Linked DNA regions of Homo sapiens: region 1 is linked to region 2. The links come from fine-mapping of genetic effects on gene expression. A gene starts in region 2. The other region holds a variant in brackets. All regions are shown on one strand. Distances are between the middles of the regions. Region 1 overlaps PRKAB1-AS1 (PRKAB1, TMEM233 and CCDC60 antisense RNA 1). Region 2 holds the start of PRKAB1 (protein kinase AMP-activated non-catalytic subunit beta 1).

Region 1 (16,108 bases), 90 kb after region 2:
ATCCTGTAACCACAGGGAAGAGCGTAGTCTTTCATCCTTTCTGGCTGGCTTTGCTCTTTGGTTCCCTGAAGCCTCACCTTTCTGCCCTCTCTCTTTGCCTCTAATTTCTTACACCATCTTCCACTGGTCAAAATGATGATGGGCACTTTCCATAAAGCATCAACTTTCCTCTCAGAGCTTGTGCCTTATACACCTGTCAACTGCTTCTCTAAATATGACACACAAATCTCTTTACCCCCTAATTGTTCTCTGACATTATTTGTGCATTGTCAAGGTTTACAACATGTAAATTTTGTTTTCTATGATATAGAGAATGTAATTCTTTTGGGCTTTGTCCAAAGGTGGTATCACCAATGGATAGTTTCAATAGTGTTACCTAAGTATGATTTACTGCAGAATCAAGTAGCATGATTAAATTTATAGAGAAGGACCTAATCCTATTTCATTACAGTTGAGTCTTTTAGAGGAGAATATAATTAATAAAAATTGGGAGGAAGGATCATTGGGAGGGCAGAAGTGTATTAGTTCATTTTCATGCTGCTGATAAAGACATACCTGAGACTGGCTGATTTATAAAGAAAAACAGGTTTAATGGACTCACAGTTCCATGTGGCTGGAGAGGCCTCACAATCATGGTGGAAGGCGAAAGCCACATCTTACATGGTGACATGCAAGACAGAATGAGAGCCAAGTAAGAGGGGAAACCCCTTATAAAGCCATCAGATCTCGTGAGACTTATTCACTACCACAAGAACATTATGGGGGAAACTGCCCCCATGATTCAGTTAACTCCCACCAGGTCCCTCCCATACAGATGGGAATTATGGGAGCTACAATTCAAGATGAGATTTGGGTGGGGACACAGCCAAACCATATCAAGAGGATACAGCATATTGTAACCATATAGCTATTGTTATTTCTATTATATGCCATTCAATTTCATCAAGTTAATCTAGATTATTTGTAAATATATAATTTATCTATTTTGTTTTTAGAGTTCTCTAACATTGTGATCTAATTTAGACCATTTTTTTCATGCCCACTGCATACGTGTCATCCTGAGACTTGATTTTATTGCACTCCTGTCTTAATTTCTATAGCTTTACTAAAAGCCTTGATATTTGCTAGGACAAATCCAACCTCATGCTTGCTTTCTTCGTATCCTTTTCGCTATTCTTGGCCCTTTGTTCTTCTTTGTGACATGCATTTTTTTTTAATCTCAGGTGCAAAGGGCTAGTTAATGGTATTCCTCACTTCATTTTACATACTGTCATTGGTCCATTCAAGGCTCTGGCCTTGTTTTTTGCTTGATTCTTTTTATCCCCTCCATACCCCAATCTCAGGCACCCACTTAAATGTCTTTGGTGTATGTATCTGGTTACATGTGTATCACAATACATTATTTTATGTGTATATGTGCTTAAATGATACAAAAAATGTTTTGTAACAGAGACCATTGTTTCTTACCTTTTAAAAGCAATATGATTTTCAGATGTATTTTTGCTGCTATATGTACATCTAGTTAATTCCTTTTAACAGTTGCATAGTATTTCAAAGCACGCATCTATTACAACTTGCTGTTACATTTCTTCAGTAATGGACATCTAGTGGTCTTTAGCTCCCTATAGCACAAACACTGTTGCAATTCACATTCTTATAAATGCCACGTTAGAGTTCTGTGTGAGAGTTTCTATAGAGTACATATGTTCAGGGGCAGGGTTGCTAAGTCCTAGGGTATACACAGATTTTCTTTCACTAACTATTGATGGATTGTTTTCTAGAATGACTGTACTTGTTTACATGCCCATCAGAATGCATGGAGATTCCTGTTATTAGCTTGCTTTCCAGCTTTTGCCAGTCTTATGGGAGTAAATCAGTATCTAATTGTTTTAATTTGCATTTCTTTGATTACTAGTGAGATTGAACATTTATTCATTTACTTTTCAGCCATTCAGATTTCCCTATATGTAAATTCTCTGTCAATATATTCTTCTGAATTTTTCTATTTCTATTGGGGCTTTCTTCTTTTCTTGTTGATTTTGTTTCTTTTATTTTCTAGATGTTAATTTCTTGTTTTTTTTAATTTTTTTTGTTATACTTTAAGTTCTGGGTTACATGTGCAGAATGTGCAGTTTTTTATATGTTGCAAATACCTTCTTTCAGGCTATCATTTATCTGTTAACTATGTGATATTTCTTTAAACAGGGAACCTTAATTTTGATGTACCACCAGTTTTCCACCTATGGTATAGGTTTTAAATTTTATTTAATAAGTCATTCTTCATTTAGAAGTCACAAAAATATTCTCTGACAATTGCTTCTATTAGATTTCTGGTTTCACATTTTACATTTACATCCTCAAGGAATTTGGAGCTCATCTTTGTAAAGGTGTGAGTCAGGGATCCACTTTCAGTTTTGTTCAAACAATGAGTTATTAGGTTGGAACAAAAGTAATTGCAGTTTCGCATTACTTTCAATGGCAAAAACCACAATTACTTTTGAACCAACCTAATAGTTTCCTCCAAACCATCCATGATTATACATGGCTCTAGTAGCCACTTCCCACACCACTACTGCATGTTTTTTTTATTGCTATGCATTTGTATGATGTATTAATATCTGATAGGGTGAACCCTACTTTTCTTCTTCAACTTTTAAGTTTAGGGGTACATGTGCAGGATGTGCAGGTTTGTTACATAGGTAAACATCTGTCACAGTGGTTTGCTGCACAGATCAACCCATGACCCAGGTATTAAGCCCAGTGTATATTAGCTGTTCTTCCTGATGCTCTCCCTCCCCCCACCCCAAAACCCCCACCCTCCCACCCCCACCTCTAGGCCCCAGTGTGTGTTGTTCCCCATTGCTTTTATTTAAAAAACTAGCATAGACAATTCATATTGTCTTTAAATAAGTTTCGTGAAGCACAAACGTGTATTCCATGGATGGAAAAAAAATGGAAAAGTTATTAAGTCTTCCCAAATTTGTCTGTATGTATTCAAGGCTTCATCTATGTATTTCAATAATGTTTCATAATTTTCTTCATAATTATAGTCATTATAGTTTTTCTTGCTGTTTAAGTGGGATTTTTTTTTTCTATTACATTTTCTAACTGGTAGTTCTTAGAATGTAGAAATTATACTGATATTTGTATGTTGATATTCTGGATACGCTTATTGGTTCTAACAGTTTGTCTATAGATTCTCTTACATTTTCTGTATAGCTAATCATATTGGTTGAAGAAGCTTCTTTTCCTATTCTTAAACATCATTTATTCTTCTTAATTATAATTTTTATAATGTTAAGCAAATATTATTTTCTTGTTACTGACTTTAATGAGGATGCTTCTAAAGTTTCACCAGTAAATCTATTTGTGATAGATTTTTAAAGAAAATGTTAATTTACTTTTTAATTGAAGTTTTGTTATAATTTTAAAATATAGCTTTACATGAATATCATTCACATTTGGCCAGAATAGACATAAGTAAACCTAGGTGATTCAGAGTGAGGTCTTATAATCAGTTGTTGTAGTTGTTTTGGCTTTTTAAAAATCATATTAAGAAAGTTTCCATTAGCTTATTAATGTAAAAATTATTTATAACTGTTGGATTTTGTTATCTTTTCTGCATGAGTTGAGAATTATTCTATTATTTGGTAATTATTTTTATCACTTCTATTTTCTGTTCCTCTTTTTCTGGGTCTCTTATTAAATAAATTTTGAATCTGCTGGATTGTCTTTTGTGTCTCTTAGTGTTTATATTTTGCATGTCTTTTCCCCTTAGGTTCTTGACAATTTTCCAGGCTGTGCACCAAATTAAAAATTTAGGTAGTATGACTTTTAATTTTTTAGAGGGCCTTCCTATTTTCTGATAATGTCTTTTCTGTAGACCTTATAATTGTCAACACTAATTATTATTTTAAAATGAATATCTTGGCCGGGCGCAGTGGCTCACGTCTATAATCCCAGCACTTTGGGAGGCTGAGGCAGGCTGATCACGAGGTCAGGAGGTCGAGACAATTCTGGCTAACACGGTGAAACCCCGTCTCTACTAAAAATAATAAAAAATTAGCCAGACATGGTGGCGGGCGCCTGTAGTCCCAGCTACTCGGGAGGCTGAGGCGGGAGGATGCCATGAACCTGGGAGGTGGAGCTTGCAGTGAGCTGAGATCACACCACTGCACTCCAGCCTGGGCAACAGAATGACAGAATGAGACTCCATCTCAAAAACAAAAACAAAAACAAAAACAAAAAGAATATCTTCTTGGTTTTCTCTGAAGACACTACTAACTATAATTAAAAAAAATTTTCTTGGCTGGGTGTGGTGGCTCATGCCTGTAATCCTAGCACTTTGGGAGGGTGAGGTGAGATGATCACTTGATCCCAGGAGTTTAAGACCAGCTTGGGCAACATAGTGAGACCCTGTCTCTACAAAAAAATTAAAAATTAGCTGGGCATGGTGGTGCAGCTGTAGTCCCAGCTACTTGGGAGGCTGAGATGGGAGGATCAGTTGAGCCCAGGAGGTCGAGGCTATCATGAGCCATGATTGAGCCACTGTACTCCATCCTGGGCAGCAAGATGAGACCCTGTCTCAAAGAAAAACATTATTTTTTTTCTTTTATAGCTTCTCTTTTTTTGGTTGAAGTTCAGTTGTGTTATTTGTTCATCTTAGTTCACAAATGTCTGAGGATCCTTGGTTGTCCATTCATATTCATAGTGGAATTCATTGATTAATACTAGCAGCTATTGTGGATTTTCTCCACATTGTATAATAGTGTTTCCAGTATGACTTTTCCTTTGAATGGGGGGCCATTATCTTGTATAACCTTCACAGTAGCTACATTAGTTATCTATTGCTGCATAACCAATTATCCCCAAACTTAGCAGCTTGAAACAACAAATATGTATCATCTCACATGTAGGTAATATCTCATAGTTTCTGTGAGTCAGAAATCTGGGCACAGCTTAGATCGATATCTCTGACTCAGGATCTCTCGCAAGGCTGGAGCTGCAGCCATTGCAAAGCTTGATTGGGTGGTGTGGGTGGCAGATCCACATCCAAGCTTACTCACATAGCTGTGGTTGGCCTCATGTTCTTGGTGACTTTTGGCTGGAGACTTTAATTCCTTGCTATGTGGGCCTCTATAAGGGTACTCACAGCATGGCAGCTTGTTTTTGGAGAACCAGAGCAGACAGAGAGAGAGGAGTGAAAGAGAGAGAGAGAGAGATTCTTTCGCAACCTAATTTCAGAAGTGGCATCCCATCATTATTGCTGTATTCTATTGGTTACAAGCAAATCAGTAAGTGCTAAGTCCAGCACACCCTCAAGGGGACTCAAGGGAAGGGGATTATGCAAGGGCATGAATGTCTGAAGGTGGGGATCACTGGGGCCATCTCAGTGGCTGTTCTATTACTAACTCCCAATGAGAAACTGGGGCTTACCAAGGTTAAATCACTTGCCTAATATCCAACAGCCAATGAATGGTGGAGCTGAGTCTTGGACCCAAATGGATCTGTTCCAAAGTTTGCCCACTCAATCTCCATACCGTGATTTTCCAAAGGGTAGATGCATCCCACTGATGGAATGTAAGACCATTTAAGGTGGTACAGAAAGTCTCAAGTTGGTGCAAATATACCCTTAGCCTTCTAACCTTCATTCATCTCCTTTTGATCAAGAGGGGGCTGGCCTGAGTCTCAAAGTCTTGGGGGACAATGTTACCTAGCTAGAATTTAATAACATGGATGTCTATTAATTGTGTTTACTTCCAGTTTTGTGAAGTAGAAGTGGCTTTAAACTAATGGCAGTGACATAAAATTTTCTCTTAAAATACAGTTTAAAAACACAAAATAGTTAAAGTAAAACCTTAACTAACAGAGATGGCACTCAGATATGGAAAACATAGTGAAGGTGATCTATAGATTACTCAAGTTTGCAAAAGACTACCTAAATTATAATGCGTCTATCCCGAAAAGAACCTTGTAGATAGTAATTCTTTTTGGCTCAATTTTATTTTTCCCCTTCATTTTATAAATGTGTAAAATGAAATCAAGAAAGGGTAAGTGACTTCCTTATGGGTACACAACTTCCATGATCACAGCCCAATTCCATGACTCACTATTACTTCTATTATTTAGCAGGTTGAAGCAATTTCTTTTTACTCTCCCTACTCCCAACCCACTATTTCCCATTCACTTTCCCTCACACCCCACGATTTCCCATTCACTTTCCTCTAAATCAGGGTTTCTCCACCTCAAGACTGTTGACATTTGGGGGCAGGAGAATTATTTATTGTGGGGGCCTGTCTTGTGCCTTGTAGGAGGCTGAGTGGCATTCCTGGCCTCTACCCACTTCATGTCAGTAGCACCCCCATCCTCAGTTGAGACAACCAAATATGTCTCCAGACATTGCCCAATGTCCCCTAAGGGGCAAAATCACCCTTGTTGGGCATCACTGCTCTAAAGCAGCATTTTGTATTTCTGCAAGCTCTCAGGTGCCACTGGTCTGTGGACCACACTTTTAATAACTACTTTAAACTATACAACCTAAAAAGGTAACTGTTCCTGCCTTCCCTCCCCACTCCCCCATTGTTTGGAGACGGTGTATATCACAGTTGTAATG[C/T]AAAATAACACTCTGGTGCAATATTTGCTATGAATTAAATTAGGTTTCCTACGTGGAAGATGGGGATTCTAGCATTAAACTTTCAGAAGCAAATTGTTCCCGAAGGGTAGGGAACACACATAATCTAGTTTTATTTCCTATACTTGGTAAATTAGAAACCAACTGGACAAATTAAGAGGAAATGCTTATCAAAAACAATCATTTTGTTATTTGTGTTATTTGGGAAAAAAGATGACCCTAACCTACATATTTAGCAAGTGTGGTTTGGGAACAGTTTGAAGAATGAGCATGCTTGAAGTGAATGATTCCTGAATGTGTTGTGCCGATCACGCAGAGGCTGGGATGAGCTCAGACTCTTGCTCGGCAGCAGAATGGACCATTTTTAATTGCTTAAGAGAGCTTCCTGGGAGCGCTGCACATTAGCCAGGGATGGGAGGCAGATCCGTGTATAAGCAGGAGGGGTTGTAATGTCATCCTAAATGTCTTCAATTATACATGAAGGAGTGGGCTTTCTATCACAATCCAGCAAGAAAGCTCTTCTTGGGCTCCTAGGGAATTTTTGTGCATTAAGAATTAAAACTTTCCTGCATCTTTTTGGCCAAGGAAGGTTCGACATGATTTTGCTAAGGGATGATTCTTTCTCTTGTTCTTTTGTGAAAGATTGAAAGTGGGTTTTTAAAAGAGCCACAGATCCCAATATTTAACCCATTCTCCCTCTCATTTCTTTCTATCATAGTCAACTACCTCCTTCTCCAGCCTCCCTTTTCACATCTCTGTTCTTTCTGTCTCTTTGATCTTTTTGCACAGTGAATCTGATGAGGGACAACAAGTATGTTTCTTTATGACTCGCACTCTGAGGTGCTGGGTTGGTTGGTTTGTGTTCCTTACAAAAACCAAAACAAAACATCAGTTTCAGGAAATAGGATGTGAAATTGTTTATAAGAATTTTCAATCTTATGGCCTTGGATGACTTCCGTTTCTTTTTAGGCAGCCCAAGTTTGAGAACAGCAGAGTTCAGGCAACAAAGAAAGAAGTTTCCAATATTAAGGCTAAAATTGGGATGTGATGAATTCCGGTCTCTGAAAGTTTTTCTGAAGATGTTGTGTAGGCTAGGGAGGTCGGGTTAGATGGGCCAGTGCTCTTCCTGGCTGCTCACCAAAGTCACCAGGGGGAGCTTTTCAAAAGGGGAAGATGTATTTTTAGCCTGGGTTCTAATCCTAGGATCTTTGTTTATTAAAATCCTCCCTTGAGATTCAGATGGAGCCAACCTGGGTCTGGTCCCAAATGGCTTTTAGGAACAGTATCAGCAGAATTGTAAGTTACCTTAGAAAGGCCTGAGGACTCTCTGGGATCCTCCATGATTTTAGAAACTAACTTAGGCCAAAGGTCACCTACTCATGTCTGGGATAATGGTAGCCAAAAATGGCAGGGCACATGCCTGGATAAGTCAAATCCCCGTCCCCTGGCTTCTCATTTGGGTGACCTCGGACAAGTCAGTCTGTGAGAGCCTCAGTTTTCTTGCCTATAAAATGGGGACAATAATGCCAACTCTAATGCAGTTGTTGTGATGATTAAAGGAGACAGTGCATGTAAATTGCTTATCACAGTGCCTGGCACGTGATAAGCACTCAGTAAGTCTTAGTTGTTGGAGGCTTTAAAAGGACAAAGTGACTTTTATCAAGAGGATTTGAGGTGGCATGAGGTAAGCCAGAGCCATCGGGATGCTTCAAATTAGAGGGTGGAAACTTGAGAATAGTTGCTATCAAAACCTGAACTCATGAAAAGAATAATGGAGAAGGTGTTATGTGTTTACAAGAATGAACGCCCTTTCCTAATTCCCAAACATTTGGGAGAATTCAGCTTAAACCATGAGACAGAAAATATTATTCTGGACACTTAGTGAACTTTCGATATTGGGAGACATACTGGTCTTTTTTTTTTTTTTTTTCCTTCTGTTCCTCTAAATACCCTTGTTGCCACCACAGGGCCTTTGCATATGCTCTTTCCGCCATCTGGAATACCATCCTTCTGATCTTTATGTGGTTGGCTCCTTTTTGATATTCAGGCCTCAGCTCCCATGTTGCCTGCTCAGCTAAGCCTCCTGTTAGCACATGAGCTAATGTGGCCACTAAGTCACTATCACATCATCTCCCTCCCAGGCACTTAATATTGTTTGAAATAATCTTTTCCAACTATTATCCTCCTCATCATCAACAATCATCATCATCATCATCATCACCATCATCATCATCATCATCATCACTGCTATTATTTACCCAGCATCCGTCTTCCTCACTAATATGTAAGCCTCACAAAGCAGAAACCTTCCTTTACTATTGTATCCCAGGAATTAGAACAGTGCCTGGCATGTAGTAAACACCCACTTAATATCAAGCAAATGAATGAGAGAATGAATAAAGTGACATATAAATGTCAAAGACATCATTGTTTATTAAGAAATCAGGGTGTCTAAAGACAAGCAGTCTTAGGACTTGAAGGAACCATTCAGATGATTAACCTCAAAGCATTCTTTTTTATAGGTAATGGCATTTTTTTTTTTTGAGGTGGAGTCTTGCTCTGTCTCCCAGGCTGGAGTGCAGTGGTGCAATCTCGGCTCACTGCAAGTTCCGCCTCCCGGGTTCATGCCATTCCCCTGCCTCAGCCTCCTGAGTAGCTGGGACTACAGGCGCCCACCACCACGCCCGGCTGATTTTTTGTATTTTTAGTAGAGACGGGGTTTCACCGTGTTAGCCAGGATGGTCTCGATCCCCTGACCTCGTGATCCACCTGCCTCGGCCTCCCAAAGTGCTGGGATTACAGGTGTGAGCCACCATGCCCGGCCTATAGGTAATGGCATTTTTAGAGATTGGGGCCGGGCTTAGTATTCTGGTGTCCAGATTTGGGCAAGTATGCATAGGAAGACAAGGGAACTACGTATTTGAAATTAGGACTCTGGCCACAGTGGTTGTATTGACATGGAAAAATTGAGAATAAATGGCCATAGGTTTTGGACTAGATAAACTCTCTACAACATATCCCGACAATGAAAGCCTTCCTTAGGGTGGTGGCTGTCTGTGCTTAAATGCCTTCTCTGACATTTAGGGATCAGTAAGGGTTAGTTTCAAAAGGTGACTGAATTTGACTGGGGGAGGCTCCTTGGCACTTGGAGAATTGACCTCAATGTTTAGTGCTAGAAGATTGAAGATATCAGAGCACTAGCAATAAGTAGATTGTATTGGCACTTAGCTTGGCTCCCTGGTGTCCCACTGGGAATGGCCATACCCTACACTTTGCTTCACTGGTTTAATGGGAGGAGTTCAGGACAATAAAAAAAGCCCACATATCCTCATCTCAGGCATCTGGGATTCACATCTCCTTTCACAAAAGACATGTTATAATGGAGGCTTCAACCATTCACTCATTCATTCATTCATTCATTCATTCATTTATTTAGCATATAGTCATCTAATGCCTACGTTATGGGCTGAACTGTGTCTCCCCAGAATTTATATGTAGGAGTCCTAGTCTCTGTATCCCAGAATGTGACTGTATTTGGAGATAGGGCCCTTAAATAGGGAATTACATTCAAATGAGGTTAGTGGGATGGGCCCTAATCTATTGCTATGCTAGAACTTAAGTCTGCCATTTTATTATTTGTTGTGTTTGCTTCCTCTTCTTTTCCCTTCCTTCCTTCCTTCTTTCCTTCCTTCCTTCTTTCCTTCCTTCCTTCTTTCCTCCTCTCCTCTCCTCTCCTTCCTTTTCCTTTCCTTCCCAGTCTTGCTCTTGTTCCCCAGGCTGGAGTGCGATGGCGCGATTTTGGCTCACTGCAACCTCTGCCTTCCAGGTTCAAGAAATTCTCCTGCCTCAGCCTCTCGAGTAGCTGGGACAGGCGCCTGCCACCATGCCCGGCTAATTTTTGTATTTTTAGTAGAGACGGGGTTTTACCATGTTGGCCAGGCTGGTCTAGAACTCCTGGCCTCAGGTGATCCACCCACCTCAGCCTCCCAAAGTGCTGGGATTACAGGCGTGAGCCATCGCGCCCAGCCTCCTCTGTTTTTCTTTACTTGCCTTCCTATAGGTTACTTGAATACTTTTTGAGATTCCATTTTGATTTATTTCTAGTATTTTTCAATATCTCTCTGTATAGTTTTTGTAGTGGTTTCTCTGGGTAGTGATGTACACGTATTATTAATATATAAATATTTATTATATATGCATATCTGCACACACATACATGCATATATTATAAATTACATATATATTTATTATAAATTTCCTGATATAAAGGACATGTAACATTCAACTTGCAAATAATTAAAAATACACAATATTTTAGTAGTAAATTTCAAATACCCAGTTCTCACAGAATTCTTATTGATTTTTGTCAAATTCTTTTATCTTTAGCCAACCTAGGGTTGCGTTGATGAATGAGTGTAGTTTTGACATGAATGTTAGTTGATATTTTTGTTTAGGTTAATGAGAAAGGCAAAAATGAAACAATGAAGACATGGGAATTTCACTTATTTGTCAATGATATGAGCAACTTTTTTGCTAAGTTGGATAATAGTTTCAATACTGGAAGAGTATTTCTTCTTTTTTGTTATTCATAATGTGATGACTCCTTTTAAGTTTAATCTACGTGGTTAATATTTTATGTATCACTTTTAAAAGTCTAGATCTGGGTTGGCAAATTACAGCTGTGGGTCAAATCTGCCTGCCATATGCCTGCACCCATTTGTTTACATATTGTTTTTGGCTGCTTTTGTACTGCAGTGGTAGAGTTGTATACTTGTGACAGAGACTATGTGGCTTAAAAAACTGCAAATATGTATTGTCTGGCCCTTTACAGAAACAATTTGCTGGTCCCTGGCTTAGACAATCAACAAAACAGTTAATCAAGGTTTATTTGTAATGTTACCAATTTCTGTGGTGTAAATATTCTCACCAACCTGAGGTCACTAAGTGTGATGTTGGAAAGAGATGTATAGTTAGCACACCATTATATAGTGTTTCTACCATATATATGCTATAGAAAGAAATAACCTCGAAGCATCAATAATAATAAAATATTGTAAAATAATTGGAAAACATTGAATTTTTATTATCTTTGTTTTATTTATTTATTTATTTATTTTTGAGTGGGAGTCTCACTCTGTTGCCCAGGCTGGAGTGCAGTGGCACAATCTTAGCTCACTGCAAACTCTGCCTCCCAGGCTCAAGTGATCCTCCCACCTCCGCTTCCTGAGTAGCTGGGATTACAGGTATGCGTCACCACACTTGGTTAATTTTTGTATTTTTAGTAGAGACAGAGTTTCACCATGTCAGCCAGGCTGGTCTAGAACTCAAGCGATCCACCCACGTTCGCCTCCCAAGGTGGTGGGATTACAGGCAGGAGCCATAGTGCCTGGTCATCATCTTTGTTTTAAATATAATTTATTTAATTGTAAGTTCATATAATCATTTTAAATAATGGCTGCATTTAACAGGTGGTTCACAGAATTAATGTAAATTTAACAACTGGCTCCTCAGAAGTTGATATGAGCCAGCTCTGGCACATCACTGGGTTCAGTCTTCATGAGGTTTGTCTTATTTCTGGTTTGCCCTCACTTTTGGCGTCTTATTTCTGGTTTGCCCTCACTTTTGGCGTATAGCCCTTTTCAGTGAAAGGGACAGCCCTTTCATTGAAATTCAAGTGAAAGCCTGGGTGTGCTTTCCTGTTATATGGTTTGGCTCTGTGTCCCCACCCAAATCCCATCTCGAACTGTAATCCTCACGTGTGGAGGAGGGGAAGTGATTGGATCACGGGGCAGTTTCCCCCATACTGTTCTTGTGATAGTGAGGAAATTCTCACAAGATCTGATGGTTTTAAAAGCAGCAGTTTTTCCTGTGCTCTCACTTCTCTCTCCTGCTGCCACGTAAGATGTGCCTTTGCTTCTCCTTTACCTTCTACCGTGATTGTAAGTTTCCTGAGGCCTCCCCAGCCACTCGGAACTGTGAATCAATTAAATCTCTTTCCTTTATAAATTACCCGGTCTCGGGTAGTTCTTTATAGCAGTGTGAAAACAGACTAATGCAACCTGTGACCTTTCTCCTTGTTAGATCCTGAGCTCTTATTTTGCTTCTCCAGTACTGTTGTGATGGTGGAAAGCTTTGCTAAACAGCTCAACCTCTTATATCCACTTTCTTCTCAGTTTCTTAGCTTGGTGCTATTGACAAATTGGCAGAAGATGGCATAGAATGTCAGACTAACCTCGGCGGGCTCAGAGAACTTTAACCTCTTAAGCCCTGGCTGCTTTGATATCTTTGCAATGCCTTCAGATAGATTTTTTGGGCATTTATTAATCTTTTCAAATTGCTTTTGCCAGGAACATTCTGATACAGGCTAGTTCATCAGAACCAGAAGTGAAGTCCCCTGTTTATGACGTTGTAAGTAGAAGTTTTTATATTGCCAAATATATCTGAGCATAGAACTCAGTTTTCCTTTATGATAACTCGTTTAGAAATCCTTTATTAAACTCAAGGTCATTCATATTTTCTTCAAAAATTTAGACTTTTATTTTCACATTTAAGTCTTTTTTTTTTTTTTTTTTTTTGAGACGGAGTCTCATCATCCAGGCTGGAGTGCAGTAGTGTGATCTCAGCTCACTACATCCTCCGCCTCATGAGTTCAAGTGATTCTCCTGCCTCAGTCTCCTGAGTAGCTGGGATTACAGGTGCACACCACCAAGCCCAGCTAATTGTTGTATTTTTAGTAGAGATGGGGTTTGGCCATGTTGGCCAGGCTGGTCTTGAACTCCTGACCTCAAGTGATCCACCTGCCTCGGTCTCTCAAAATGCTGGGATTACAGGTGTGAGCCACCATGCCCGGTCTCACATTTAAGTCTTTAATCCATTTGGAGCTGTATTTTTTAATAGTGTGAAGTAGAAATCAAATTAAAAAAAATTTTTTTACAGATAGCTTATTGTCCTAGTGGTGTTTATAGAGTAGGGGTATACTTTTCCTAGTGACCTGTGATATTTCTTTTGTCGTATGTCTAGTACTGTGTCTGCACTCTCTACTCTGTTTAATTAAACTATTTTTAATATTTTTGCACCAATAAAGTACTATCTTAATTGCTATAGTTTTCTAAGGTAAGTCTTGATTTCTTTTTCTTTTCCAAAAAATGTCGTGGCTGTCTTTGGCTTTTTTCTCTTTTGGAATTAGCTTTTCAAGTTTCACAAAAAACTTTATTAGAATTTCATTTGAAATTGCCTGAATATTTATATAATCAATTTGGGGAGAAATGTCTTTCTTGATATAAATATGTCTTTAATGTCTTTCAAGGGAGTTGTATAGTTGTATAATTTTCCACTTGAGGCTCTGCTTATTTTTAAAATATCTGTATTTCTGGCTACCAGTTTATTTTGCCATCATCATTGAGTATTTTATTTTATTATTTATTATTTTTTAAGAAGGAGTCTCGCTCTGTCACCCAGGCTGGAGTGCAGTGGCATGATCTCGGCTCACTGCAACCTCTGCCTCCTGGGTTCAAGCCCAGCTAATTTTTGTATTTTTAGTAGAGATGCAGTTTCACCGTGTTGGCCAGGCTGGTCTCGAACTCCTGACCTCAAGTGATCCGCCCGTCTTGGCCTCCCAAAGTACTGGGATTACAGGCGTGAGACACTGTGCCTGGCCTGTTGAGTATTTTAAATGTTATATTTCTGTTTGTTGTTGATGCAGATAAATACAGTTAAATTTTATATCACTATTATATTCAATTACCTTGCTAAATTGCCTAATTTATTCTAATAATTTATAGAGTCTTTGCAGTTTCTATGTGAATAATCACATTCATTGCAAATAATTCATTTTGTTGCCATATTTTAATCATTCTACCTTGGTTTAATTCATCTCGTATTATTGCATTGGCTGGGGTATCCAGTACAATTTTGAATGGAAGAAGTGAGAATGAGCACCCTTCTTTTGTTCCCTCCTCTAAAGGGAATACTTCTAAATTTTACCTGCAATTATGATTTCTGTTACAGGTTTTAGGTAGACACGTTTATCAAGTTAACTATTTTTTTTCTCCTATTCCTAGTTTGCTAAGTGTGCTCTGTTTTTTAAAACAAATTACAAATGAATGTTGAATTCTATCCAATGCCTTTTCTTCATCCATTGACAAGATCATATAGTTTTTTTCCTTTGATCTGAAAATGTGACAATTTACATTAAAGGATTTTTAAAGGTTAAGCTAATCTTACGTTCATGGTATAAGCCAAATTGGCCATGAAGGATTTTATTATATGATATAGTTTACGATACGATATATGAATGATATATTTCATGAACATATAGCTAGGTTTTGCTTTCCGATATTTAGGATTTTTGCACATATATTTATTTGCAAGATTATCCTGTAACTTTCCTTTTTCATTTTCTGTCTGGTTTTGGTATCGGAATTATATTAGATTAACGGGTACATTTCCTCTCAGGAATTCTTCGGAAGCACTTGTATAAAATTGGAATTATCTGTTTCTTGAAAATTTGCTGTAAGTTTTTACAATTCTATCTAGATCTTTTTCTTTCCTTTGAGGAAATATTTTAAATTACTGACAAATTTTCTTCGTTTTAGAACTATTCTTGTTTTCTGTTTCTTTCTGAGCCAGTTTTGTAAAATATATAATTTTCCATATATAATTTTCCATGTAGTCTAAACTGTCAAATTTATTGTCATGAAGTTTTTCATAGTATTTCATTATCTTTTAAAATCTCTCTTTTACGTATTTTTAGACATATTCTCCATTTGTGCTTTTTCTCTCTCTTTACTAGATCAATCTCACCAGAGACCTGCATCTGTTATTATTTTTTCTTGAAGAACCAACATTTCATTTTTTAAAAAATCATTTATTTATTTATATATAATATATATTATATTATATATATTATATATTATAATTTATATATATTATATATTATATATAATTTATATATATTATATATAATACATATATTATAATATATATTATATATTTTATATATATATATAATATATATATTTTTGAGATGGAGTTTTTGCTCTTGTCGCCCAGGCTGGAGTACAATGGCATGATCTTGGCTCACCGCAACCTCCACCTCCAAGGGTTCAAGCGATTCTCCTGACTCAGGCTCCCGAGTAGCTAGGATTACAGGTGTGTGCCACCATGCCCGGCCAATGTTTTGTATTTTTAGTAGAGATGGGGTTTTACCAGGTGGGCCAGGTTGGTCTTGAACTCCTGATCTCAGGTGATCCACCTGCCTTGGCCTCCCAAAGTGCTGGGATTACAGGCATGAGCTGCTGCAACCGGCCTATTAATTTATATTCTTTTTACTATTACTATTGCCTTCCTTCTTTCTTTGAGCTTACTTTGTTATATTTATAACTTCCTAACCTGGATACTTAGTTCACTAATTTTTAGCCTTTATTTTTAATATAAAAATTTAAGAATATACATTTTTTGAAGTACTTCACTAGATGC
Region 2 (12,044 bases):
TGCTTGCTCTCATTCTCTTCTGCCGTCCTGTGAAGAGGTGCCTTTTACCATGATTGTAAGTTTCCTAAGGCCTCCCCAGCCATGCGGAACTGAGTCAATTAAACCTCTTTTCTTTATAAATTACCCAGTCTCGGGTATTTCTACATAGTAGCATGAGAACAGACTAGGTTTGTGTAAGTACACTCTATGATGTTCACACAATGATAAAATCACCTAATGATGTATTTCTCAGAATATGTCCCTGTCATTAAGTGATGTATGACTGTACATGAAAATTTAAGAGGAACAATTCTAGAGCTGTCAACTTGAAAATAGGCAAATCCAGATTTTGAGGAAGGGAAAAACTACTCACAAAGTTCTGTCTAGGGACTGGGGAATAAAGCAAGACAAAGACTGAACCCTCATTAGGATAAATGATAACCTCCAGTGTGGTAAGCTCCGTATAACTGAGGTATTCCAGAATAAGAAATAAACTCATCCAAATCTATCTGGATGACATATGTAGTCATGCACCTTTTAGATTTTTTCCCAGTCAGAAGCCAAAGACTTAAAAAGAGCAGAAGGTTCAGGCTGGAAAAGACTCTTCAGGGAGTTAAGCAGGCTTCTAGCACCTTCATCTCAAATACCGACCTCAGCTTATCCAAATGATGCCTGTATTCTTTGAATTCTAACAAGATCTACATATTAAATAACAGACTGGAATCACTTCACACTAAGGATAACTAATTATGACCAAAATAGCACCCTAGTGTAGTTAAAAGAATTCACGACTTTTTTGGTATCTGGGGATTTCAGTAACTTCTAATGAAGTGAGAATGGACGCTGCTTGAAATCATTCCCCATAGATGATGTGTGTGCTCAACATTTCCTGGAGGAGTTTTGGAATAGTAACAGAACAAATACTTCTGAAGAAAGTAGTTTTGATTCCTTTGGTGTCTTAAATAGCCTTCTTGGGACCAGGGACCAAAATTACCTCCTGGGGAAAGGACGTCAAGTCATTAGAGAAACATGATTCTAAAGTTCACTTTGCACACAGCTCTTCAAGAATGCAACAAATTCAGAGAGCAAGTTCAAACCACAGGTTGTAGGGCCACATAAAAGCAGCCTCTTTGTAGTCAGGCTCAAAACTAAGATCCAAAAGAAGGTGTGAGATGTGATCACCTCGCTCAACATGAGGACAAACACAGATGGAATGAGCTGCCAAGCAATTAAATGGATGATGATTAACATGAAATTGGATACTAACAGGGTATGTTGGGCAGAGGGCAGCTTTATCTTTCCTAAACCTACTTTGTTCCTTGAAACAATTAGTTCCTTTTGGACATAACACATAAATACCAGCTGCCAGAATCACTAAGTGTCCTTGGACTGAGCCCTGCGGCTGGAAATATCCACCATATGAAGGTGGTTAACAGGAGTGTGGTTGAAGCAGGAGTTAAGTCACCTGAGTTTTTGAATTTAAACAGGCTGCAGCAGGAAGAAAAATGTTTGCACTGGCCTGCTTAAGCACGATTAAGTCATATTTAAACAACACTAGAGAGAAGTTCAGTAGCTGCTGGCTGCCTCCTTCAGACAGACCCTCACCGCCCACTGACCTCTAGAAGCTGAAAGACTTTTCTATGTACGCTTTAAAAAAAAGCAGGGTGAGGCCGGGAGTGGTGGCTCATGCCTGTAATCGCAGCACTTTGGGCGGCCCAGGCGGGCGGATCACTTGAGGTCAGGAGTTCAAGACCAACCTGGGCAACATGGCGAAACCCCACCTCTACCAAAAATACACAAAATTAGCCAGGCATGGTGGCACACGCCTGTAGTCCCAGCTACTCGGGAGGCTGAGGCAGGATGGTTTGAGTCCGGGAGACGAAGGTTGCAGTGCCCCGAGATTGTGCTACTGCCCTCCAGCCTGGGCAACAGAGTGAGACTCCATCTCAAAGAAGGAAAAAAAAAAAATAAGTAGGGTGGGTTCAGTGGCTCACGCCTGTAATCCCAGCACTTTGGGAGGCCGAGGCAGGCGGATCTCCTGAGGTCAGGAGATGGAGACCATCCTGGCTAACACGGTGAAACCCCGTCTCTACTAAAAATATAAAAAATTAGCCGGGCGTGGTGGCGGGTGCCTGTCGTCCCAGCTACTCGGGAGGCTGAGGCAGGAGAATGGCGTGAACCTAGGAGGCGGAGCTTGCAGTGAGCCGAGATCGCGCCACTGCACTCCAGCCTGGGCGACAGAGCGAGACTCGGTCTCAAAAAAAAAAAAAAGTAGGCTGAACCGGCCAGCACCGTAGCTCACGCCTGCGATCCCAGCACTTTGGGAGGCCAAGGCATAAAGATTGCTTGAACCCGGGAGTTCGAGACCAGCCTGGAGAACATTGTGAGACCACCGTCTTTTTTATTTTTATTTATATTTTTTTTTTGAGACGAAGTCTAGCTCTGTCGCCCAGGCTGGAGTGCAGTGGCGCGACCTCGGCTCACTGCAAGCTGCGCCTCCCGGGTTCACGCCATTCTCCTGCCTCAGCCTCCCGAGTAGCTGGGACCACAGGCGCCCGCCACCACGCCCGGCTAATTAGTGAGACCACCGTCTTTTAAAAAATAAGTAGGGTGAATCAAAAGTGTTGGGCAGAACTAAACACCTCTGGCAACTGCCGTCAGCTGTTCCGCTCTACTTTCAGCTTGTATATGTACCTGGTTTGCCTCCAAAATGGATAAATTCCCAAACTAACTTTTACAAAAGCTCCAGTTTGTGTAAAGGTGAGGGAATTTGTCTCAAAGCAGTGCAATTAATTACACCTAAGAGAAAAGCAGAAGCTGGGGCTCAATTACTGTTAGCTCGACTCTGAATTAATTAAGAATTTGAAACTCTGTCCCAGAGCTGCTTTCTCCTTAATGATGTTAAACCAAGTGAGCACCTCCTCCCTCAGGGTGACTTTCTCATATTGGTAATTAGACACAGGTTCTTGGACCGCTAAGAGAACTCTTACAGGACCATCTGGCTTTTAAGTGCACCGGGTAATGTACCACCTCCCTCTCCGTTCTGGTGTTTTTCGAAAGGATGTGACGGGAATCTAGTGGAGGGTTCCTCTCCTCAACATTAGTCAAGGGGAATCGGGTTCCTCCACACCGCTCGCACCTTGATTTCCTCGGAGTGGAAGAGGTCGGCGTCTTCGGGGCTGTCCATCAGGATCTTGGGCCTGTCCCCGTCCTTGGTGCCCCCCGAGCTGTCCCTCCGGGGCGTCTTATGGCCACCATGCCGCTCCAGCGCGGCGCGCTCACTGCTGGTATTGCCCATGATGGGGGTCTGCGGGGACACAGGGAAGGCGGACGGCGCCTCACTGCAGGAAAGGGACCCTGAGCAAGGGACTCCCGGAACCGCGGGTCCCAAGGAGCCTGCGGAAGGAGTCGGAGCACCAGGACACCACGCCCCTCGGGCCGGGAGCCGGTTCCGGCTGAGTCGGCAGGGTTGCCGAGCTCTCGCAATCGCGCTTTACCTGCCCAGGCAAGCCGCGGCAAGAACGCAAGGGGCGCGAAGATAAACCGACACTTTCCCAACCGCTTCACCACCCCTCAGCGACTTCCGCTTCCGGCGACTCCGTAAGTCGGCCCGGCCTAGGGCGTGGAGGTGGCGGCGGCCAGCTAAACGCGCGAGGCTATCTCGATTCCATTTCCGCTTCCGGTCTTGAGCGGTGCGGTAACAGGTGCCCCGGGCCGTCTCTGCAGGCCTCGGAGCGCGCAGTCGCAGTCAGCAGCCGGCCGCCCAGGGCCAGGCCCAGGACGAGGCGCTGCCGAGGGCCGGCAGGGGGCACCCCAGCGCGCGGGCAATCTGAGCCGTTCATGCGCTGGGCTGAATAATGCCATTTAGCTATCTTTGCTCACTTATAGTTGATTCTACACTCTGCAGCCAGAGGGATCTTTCTAAAATGCAAATCTGATTCAGAAACTCCACTTCTTAAAGCCCTTTTAATGCACGTGTTCTCACGCTTTACAGTGCATTAGGTTAACCTGGAGCGCTTGTTAAATGCATCCCCCACTGCAGACCTGCAGAATCATGATTTCTACAGATTAGGGTCGGGGGTGCAGGCAGTCTTGCAGGTATTTGAAAAAATGGCAGACCATAAGATCTCTGGAAATTTCTTATGTCTAGTAGGTTGGGGGTTGTAAAATGCTGGAGTTATTCGTGTATTTTTATTGAGTGTGCAATCTTTTGATAGGTAATTTTGCAAGATATCTTGTAATCACTTCGGAAACATCCTTCTGCATAAGATGCATTAGCGTTTGTCATTTACTCTGGTCAGTGCTTCAACAAGAAGTGCATACAAATACGGTAGTAAAATATTCTCATCTTCTCATTGTCAGTCATTGTCATATTTTGTGGGTTTTTTGGTGTGTGAATATCTCAAAATACTTTGCATTTGCCGGGTCAGGTCATGCATTTCACCCACTGAACATTTATTTAGTACCTAAAAAAGTACCAGACATTGTGCTAAGGAAATGAGGAACACAAGATGACTAAGATAAGGTTTCCTGGGGGGAATTCAGCAGTATGCATCAAAATTTAAAAATGCACCTTCATTTTGACACACAATTTTACTCCTAGGAAACTTGTGCAGAAATACACACATGAAAATTATTTACAAGCATTATCTACAAAATATTTACATGCAAAAATATATTCTAAGATGCACTTGTCACCCCCCATGCCCCCATATATTTTAATTTCTGAAACTGGATGCTTTTTACAATAATGGAATCTTACACTTGGTGAAATAAGGAAATGAAAAACTACAAAATCCTAAAAGTTGTTCAGTAGGAGAATGGCAAAATGAATGGAATACATTCATTTTGTAGAATACCAAGCAACTTTTAAAAAGGGAGAAACCATTTTTAGGTCACTATGGGGAAGTGTCTATGATATTGCAAGGTCCGGAAGCAAGTGAGAGAACAAGTTCAAGGGCAGGAGCTCTGAATTCAGCCTGGCCATGTTCAGATTCTGGCTTTACCATTTAGTAACTGTCACCTTAGTCTCTTCTTTTGTGAAATGGGAACAAAAATAACACCTACTTCATAGGCTTGTTTTGTGAATTAATTGGGAACGTGCATAAAAATGCTGAGCATAGCACTTGACTCTTAGTAAACACTCAATAACTGTTAACACTTTTATTAGCACTATTAGGCTAGCAAATGGAAAGTTCTGGAAGGGTATACAACACATTGTTAATAGTGGTCTTCTGTGGGGAGAGGAGGGAGATTGCAAATAGGAGCAGACAGAAAAGGGACTTTCACTTTTCATTTATATAGTTCTGTATTTGAAAAGTTTTCTATTGTGAGGATGTACTACTTTTTAATTTAAAAAAATAAGATATGGTTCCAGCCCCAAAGGAATTAATACAGTACAGGCTGGCACCGACCCACAGAAAAGCAATAATATAGCTAGGTAAGGGATCCTGTGGGAGCCCAGAAGGGACTTAAGCCAGGCCAGGAAAAGGGATGGGAGCCAGGAAAAGGGATGGGAGCCAGGAGGGTCTTCCTGAAGCTGATGACTGAGAATTTGAATGTATTCAGTATAATCAGAAATGTTGAATGTGCTTGCTGAATTAAATAAGCTAAGATACTGTGGATGACCCAGGATATCTTCTTTGAGCTGCTTTTCTAATAGTGGCCCTGACTTGGTTACATGAGACAGTGGGGTGTTGAGTTTTGAAATCTCTCCCAAACAGCCGGAGAGATAAGAAAGAACACATGAGCTGTGGATTCTTTATCTGAGCTATGCAGATGCTTTGATGCATGAAGAAAGTTTTAAGACATCTGCACTAGCTTGAATAAGATAACAGTGAAAGCATGGGTGGCCCTTGATGTCAAATACAATCAACAATATCCTGAGGATGCCACCAACTGCTGATTGGAAACTCTTACCACATTGTATCAAGATTTCATGACAAAGAAACTAACATTGGTATCTATCAGCTATTGACCCCATATTGAAAATCATGGGTAGGGTAGACTCGCCAATTACAAGTGTCTACTTGGGTCCCAGCTGTGTCTCTCTTGGGTCATTTTGTGTTACTTATCTGTGTAACAATGGTTTGTGACTTTCCTAAGCATCAGAGCGTCTCATCTTTCTCTGATTCTCTGCTGATATGGATGTCAGACCATTCCATCTTGGGGGCTGGAGGTGTGCCAGGAAGTATAACTGTTAGCACATTGCTGTGTAAAAGGCATCATCTACTCACTGCTGTCTGTCTGGCACCAGGGCAAAGACAAATGATAAATACCCTAGATTCTCCCCCAAACAAACCAGGGCAATTTTAACACAGCCACAGCTAGGAGTACCCCTCCCCCACCCCCGCAACCCTGGCTTCAAATTCACTCCAGCTCCAAGCACAAAAAGAAGTAGGTTTTCAAGTCCTTAAAAGTCACCCAGAGTGAGATAAAATCTCATTTATCCTTAAATTTATGATTAAAAGGGTTAAGGATAATGTTTTGGGGCCTCCTCCATAGGATGGATTAGAATCAGTATAGCACTTCTGAACTGACCAACCCATTTGTTTTATATAAGGAAGAGTCTAAGTCCCAGAGATCGAACAGTTTTGCCTGAGGTCACTCAGATGATCATAGGTCATACTGAGACTGAATTCTGGATCACCTGGCCACTCCCCACTACATCATGGTCATGGCACCTCATCAAAAAGACCTTTGGTTCCCCAGCTGGCCTGTCTACAAACATTTGTACTGTTCTGAAGAACCCTCCCCATCTAAGAACAGCCAGGGCTCTGATCACAAATAACTCAATGGCAATATTGAGTGCCAATTATGAGCCAGGCACTGTTGTAACTCTTGGTTACAACAGTGAACAAAACCAAGTTCTTGCCCTCCAGAGGAAAGAGTCCACACACATATGCACATGTGGTGAGAACAGGCAGTGTTCTCACTAAACATCGGTAGCTGGAGGAAGAAATTTCACATTTGGACTATGCTGTAGACTAAATTGTATCCCCCCAAAATTCATACATTTGCACTCCCACTCCCAATTTTATAATGTTTGGAGGTGGGGCCTTCAAGGGGTAATTAGGGTTAGATGAGCTCATGAGAGTGGGGCCCCCATGATGAGATCAGGGTACTTATGGGAAGAAGAGACGCTGGAGAGCTTGCTCGCATGCTGTCTATTCACGCCCATGCTCAATGGAAAGGCCATGTGATGACAAAGCAAGAAGGCGGCCATCTGCAACTCAGGGAAAGAGCCCTCACCACACATCAACCATCCTGGCACCCTGATTGTATTAGGCCATTCTTGTATTGCTATAAAGAAATATTTGAGGTTGAGTAAGTTATAAAGAAAAGAGGTTTACTTGGCTTATGGTTCTGTAGGCTGTACAGCAAGCATGGCTCTGGGTATCTGCTTGCTTCTGGTGAGGCCTCAGGAAGCCAAGGGGGAGCCGATGTATTGATGTATCACATGGCAAGAGTGGGAGTAAGAAAAAAAGTGGGAGGAGGTGCCGCACGCTTTTAAACAACCAGATCTTGTGAGGGCAGCACCAAGACGATGGTGCTACACTATTCATGAGAAGTCCACCTCCATGATGCAGTCACCTCCCACCATGTTGGAGGCCTCACCTCCAACATGGGATTACATTTCAGTGTAAGATTTAGGGGGAAAAGTATCCAAATTATATCACTGATATTAGACTTCCAGCTTTCGGACCTGGGAGAAGTAAATCTCTGTTGTTTAAGCCACCCAGTTGATGATTTGTTATAGCAGTCTGAGCTGACTAAGACAGACTCAAATGTGTGTGGGCTGCTAGGATAGAATTACAAGCTTACTTTTAGGGCTTAACCAGATTTCCACCAGGCCTTCTGAATTTTGCCTAGCCAATGTAAGTAACACTGCCAATGTTTGAGAAACTTGTCCATCTTTTCTTGCTAGACATTCTTGTGTTCTCTTTGCACTGAGATGTGAATATTGTGACAGAGAGTCATCAACATAGAATTAAAAGAAGTTCATTCTACAGCATTTGGTCTACAACCTTAATTGGCAAATAGCCTCATTTTGTGACTTTTAGGTTGTCTGAGAAAATTCTGTTTCTTGACCTGGGTTGGTAATTATTAACATGTTTGCCTTGTAGTAACTTACTAAGCCATACATTTCTTTTGTGTAGTTTCCTGTATCTTTATTTTATTTTCAATAAAGTTTTTTTTAAATAAATAGCTTCACTCACAGGGTAAGCTGAAACCTAGAAGGGAGAAGTGCCCAGTTCAAGGTAACACAATGTTCTTAATAAAGTTCACCTCAAGTCTATCCTCTTTTTTTTTTTTTTTGAGATGGAGTTTCACTCTTTTCACTCAGGCTGGAGTGCAGTGGTGCAATGTCGGCTCACTGCAACCTCCGTCTCCCGGGTTCAAGCGATTCTTCTGCCTCAGCCTCCCAAGTAGCTGGGACCACAGGCGCACCCCACCACGCCTGGCTACTTTTTGTATTTTTAGTAGAGACGGGGTTTCACCATGTTGGCCAGGCTGGTCTCAAACTCCTGACCTCAGGTGATCCACCCTCCTCGGCCTCCCAAAGTGCTGGGATTACAGGTGTGAGCCACTGCACCTGGCATCTCTATCCTCTTTTAAGAGCTTTGAAGGAATGGAGGAGAAAAGGATGTACACTTTCTACCCCTTTTCTAGAGGACAAGTGACAAACTAAAGCAGTATCCAGGCAAAGATCCAACGGAGGTGAAAACAATGAGAGGAAGTCTGTCTCTGTCTCATCTCTTTAAAATGTAAGCTCCCAGGGATTTGAATATCAAAGTTTCATAATCACTTTAACATATGCTGTTGGGACCATCATACCCCATCTGCATGTGCCCTTCTGCGCATGCCCCAAACTTCCTAACTGTGAGCAGGTGCAACTCTGAGGGCCTTCTGGAGAAAGCTTTGTCGACACAAGTGGGAACCCAAGGGGACCAGAGAAGACACCCTGAGAGAAGCCCTCAGCCAACCACAGAGGAGCCAGTTCCCTTGCCCCTTGGATGTGCTAACTCTAATGAAGCAGCGTCATTTTTCTGGGGTAACACCCGAGGTTCGATGTCTCATGCTAAGGAAATTGAAGACATGGCCATGCAAGGAGTGGGTTTAAGAGTGGAAAGTTAAATAGATGAAAGAAGGAAGAGAGCTTCCTCATGCAGAAGAAGGGGTCCTGAGTGGGTTTCCCTGGTTTGGGGCAAGGTGTGGTTGGTTTTAGGGATGAGCGTGAGGAGATGGTATATGATTTACATGGGGTGTAGTGGATTGGTTGGACCAGATGTGCCATTTTCATAGCCCGTGAAGAGGCTGGTCATCCCACTCTAATCTTTTATTATGCAAATGGAATTTTAAAAAACCTGGCTGGTGCCATGTTATCTGCACACGTGGCAACAAAGAAAAGGGAAGAGGGAACCTCCATGTTGAATATACCTGGTTTCCAGCTATCTGTTTTCTATTGGCACAGCTGCTGGTATTTACCTATGCAAGCCTCTAGCTTGCTTATCTATGCTTGCAGCTTGATTTTTCAGGCTGCTTTTTGTTAAAAAAAGAAATGATTTGGAGACTGCGTTTTTATTAAAAGAAAAACCTTACTGAGGACTCTCTTACCCTCACTAACTGTCTAAATAATTTCTTTTTAGCTCTCGTATAACTAAGATATATTCCCTACCGTGTCTCAGAGGTCCCCAGTGGAAATGCACCCTAGATGTCCACAGCAGTAATTGGATCAAGGAATTCATTGATTATCTTCCTTTCCTTTTCTTTATCTCTTTTTAGGAGCACCTTCCAAATAAATACTCAGAAACACCTCCCAAGACACACTAATTGCATGAAAATCCTAGTTCAACCACATAGGTTACAGATGAGGAGGGACAATAGCTTGCTGAATTATAGAAAAAGTTAGTGGTCATAGATCATAATTTGGATCTTATGTCTTGGTTTCTGGTCCAGGGTACTGTGAGATTATCATTCTTCTTGATATGATGAACCATGGAGACTTTTAAAAAACAGGGATCGGCAGCATTATCATAATAGACAGAAGGTGGAAAGAATCCAAATGTCCACCAAGAGATGAGTTTGTAGGCTGGCACAGTGGCTCATACCTGTAATCCTAGCACTTTGGGAGGCCGAGGTGGGTAGATCAACTTGGGGCCAGGAGTTCGAGACCGGCCTGGCTAACATGGTGAAACTCCATCTGTACTAAAAATACAAAAAATTAGCTGGTTGTAGTGGCGCACACCTGTAATCCCAGTTTATTGGGAGGCTGAGGCATGAGACTTGCTTCAGCCTGGGAGGCGAAGGTTGCAGTGAGCTGAGATTGTGCCACTGCACCCCAGCCTGGGCGACAGAGAAAGACTCTGTAACAACAATAACAAAATGAATTATAAACAAATTGTGGTATGTTCATACAGTGGAATATTCTTCTATCACAAAAAGGAATAAAGTACTGTTACATGTTACAATGTGGATGACCTCAAAAATATTAACATTATGCTAAGTGAAATAAGCCAGACACAAAAGGTCATATATTATATGATTCCATTTATATGAAATATACAGAATAGATATATCCATGTCAATAGAAAGCAGACTGGTGGTGACCACGGGCTTGGCGGAAGAGGGAATGAGGGCTTTCTTTTGGAATGATGAAAATGTTTTAAGACTTGGCATAGATGGTGGTTCCACAACATTGTCAATGTACTAAATGCCTATGAATTGTTCACTTAAAAATGTCTACTTTAAAATTAACATTTATGTTGTATGAATTTTACCTCAAAGAAAATAGGGTTAGTCCTAGAACAAATGGTAGAGGTGTACAGTTTATCTTTTTTCCAATTTATTTTCTGCAACTGTCTTACAAAATAAACCTCTCCGCACCCTGTCCTTCCCTGTAAGTGTCTCATGACTCATGTCATCTAGCCCATCAGAACCTAACTAGTTCATGGCACTTGTTCTAGTTAATATTGATTTTTTCAGAGGCCTTCAGTTTTCTAATTGCATTAATTCATTTCTTTATCAATAACTTTTTCATGGCAAAAACTCCTATCCACCGGGCACTGTGGTAGACACTGGGGAGAGAATTGTGGGCAAAATCAAACCCAGGCTCTGTCCTGAGTGTTTACGATCTAGTAGGGAAGAGAGAAATTAATCGAACAATCATCCAACAGTCTTCTGTGACAAACGCTAAGAAGGAGAAGTGTGACCTAGTGAGAAGGATGTGACCAAGTCCTGAGGTCAGAGGAGGCTTGCTGAAGGAAGTGACAATCAAGTTGAGATTTGGAGATTGTAGGTGTTAAAGTGAAAGTTGTTTATCAATCCTTATTATGCACTCGGCATTGTGTTTGATGTATGAACTCATGTAATGCCACCAACAGTCCTTTGAGGGATCTACTATTATTACCACTTGCATTTTTCAGGAGAAAATGAGGCTCAGAGAGATGAAGTGACTTATTCGAGGTCACACAACTAGAAAGTCATGAAACCAGCATTCAAATGCAGGCAACCAGACAGATGTCAACATTTTAGCCACCACGGACAGATCATTGAGTGAGGGATGAAATCATTTTGGGTGGGCCAATGGATTGGGCTGATCTAGATTATAAGTATAAAGCTGGAATGGTCATTCAGAGAGGGAGAACAAACTAGGTGTTCAATTGTTTTAATATCTATTAAATTTTCTAGGCTAGATGCAGTGGCTCTCAGCAGCTTGGGAGGCCGAGGCGGGAGGATAGCTTGAGTCCGGGAGTTTAAGACCAGCCTGAGCAAGCTGTCGAGACCCCATCTTTATTATATTTTAAAAAATAAAAATTAAAAAAATAAAAAATTTTCTAACTACGAATCCATGTTTGTTTTTTCTTTTCTTTTTTTTCAAAAGAGCATCAATTTCCCAACCATGTTTCTTATTGTTACAAAACTCAATAAAAATCTGAAAGTTGGAAGCCATGACTTGCTGGGTGTAACGTACTAATCAAGAAGGTGGAATCAATTATTAAATAGTCAATAGGGTTAACAGCAATGAGTGATCATGGCAGGCAATGCCCCTAGCATCCCCTAGG

What was found.
Region 1: its variant is fine-mapped to the expression of PRKAB1 in whole blood (INTERVAL, PIP above 0.99).

Annotation. Positions count from the first base shown.
Region 1 is chr12:119,567,198-119,583,305 of GRCh38, reverse strand. All of the region lies in intron 1 of PRKAB1-AS1 (PRKAB1, TMEM233 and CCDC60 antisense RNA 1), which reads left to right. Among named protein-coding and RNA genes, the nearest start is that of TMEM233, 19 kb to the left of the region's middle. The variant C/T (reference allele first, on the strand shown) is at 6,614.
Region 2 is chr12:119,659,478-119,671,521 of GRCh38, reverse strand. PRKAB1 (protein kinase AMP-activated non-catalytic subunit beta 1) reads right to left here and starts at 3,389. Exons shown (of 7, transcript NM_006253.5): 1 at 3,119-3,389. The coding sequence starts at 3,277. It overlaps PRKAB1-AS1 (PRKAB1, TMEM233 and CCDC60 antisense RNA 1), which reads left to right and starts at 3,395. Exons shown (of 3, transcript NR_188494.1): 1 at 3,395-3,579. RefSeq lists enhancers at 2,059-2,694, 3,133-3,542, 5,677-5,821, a silencer at 3,643-3,912 and a cis regulatory region at 5,740-5,757.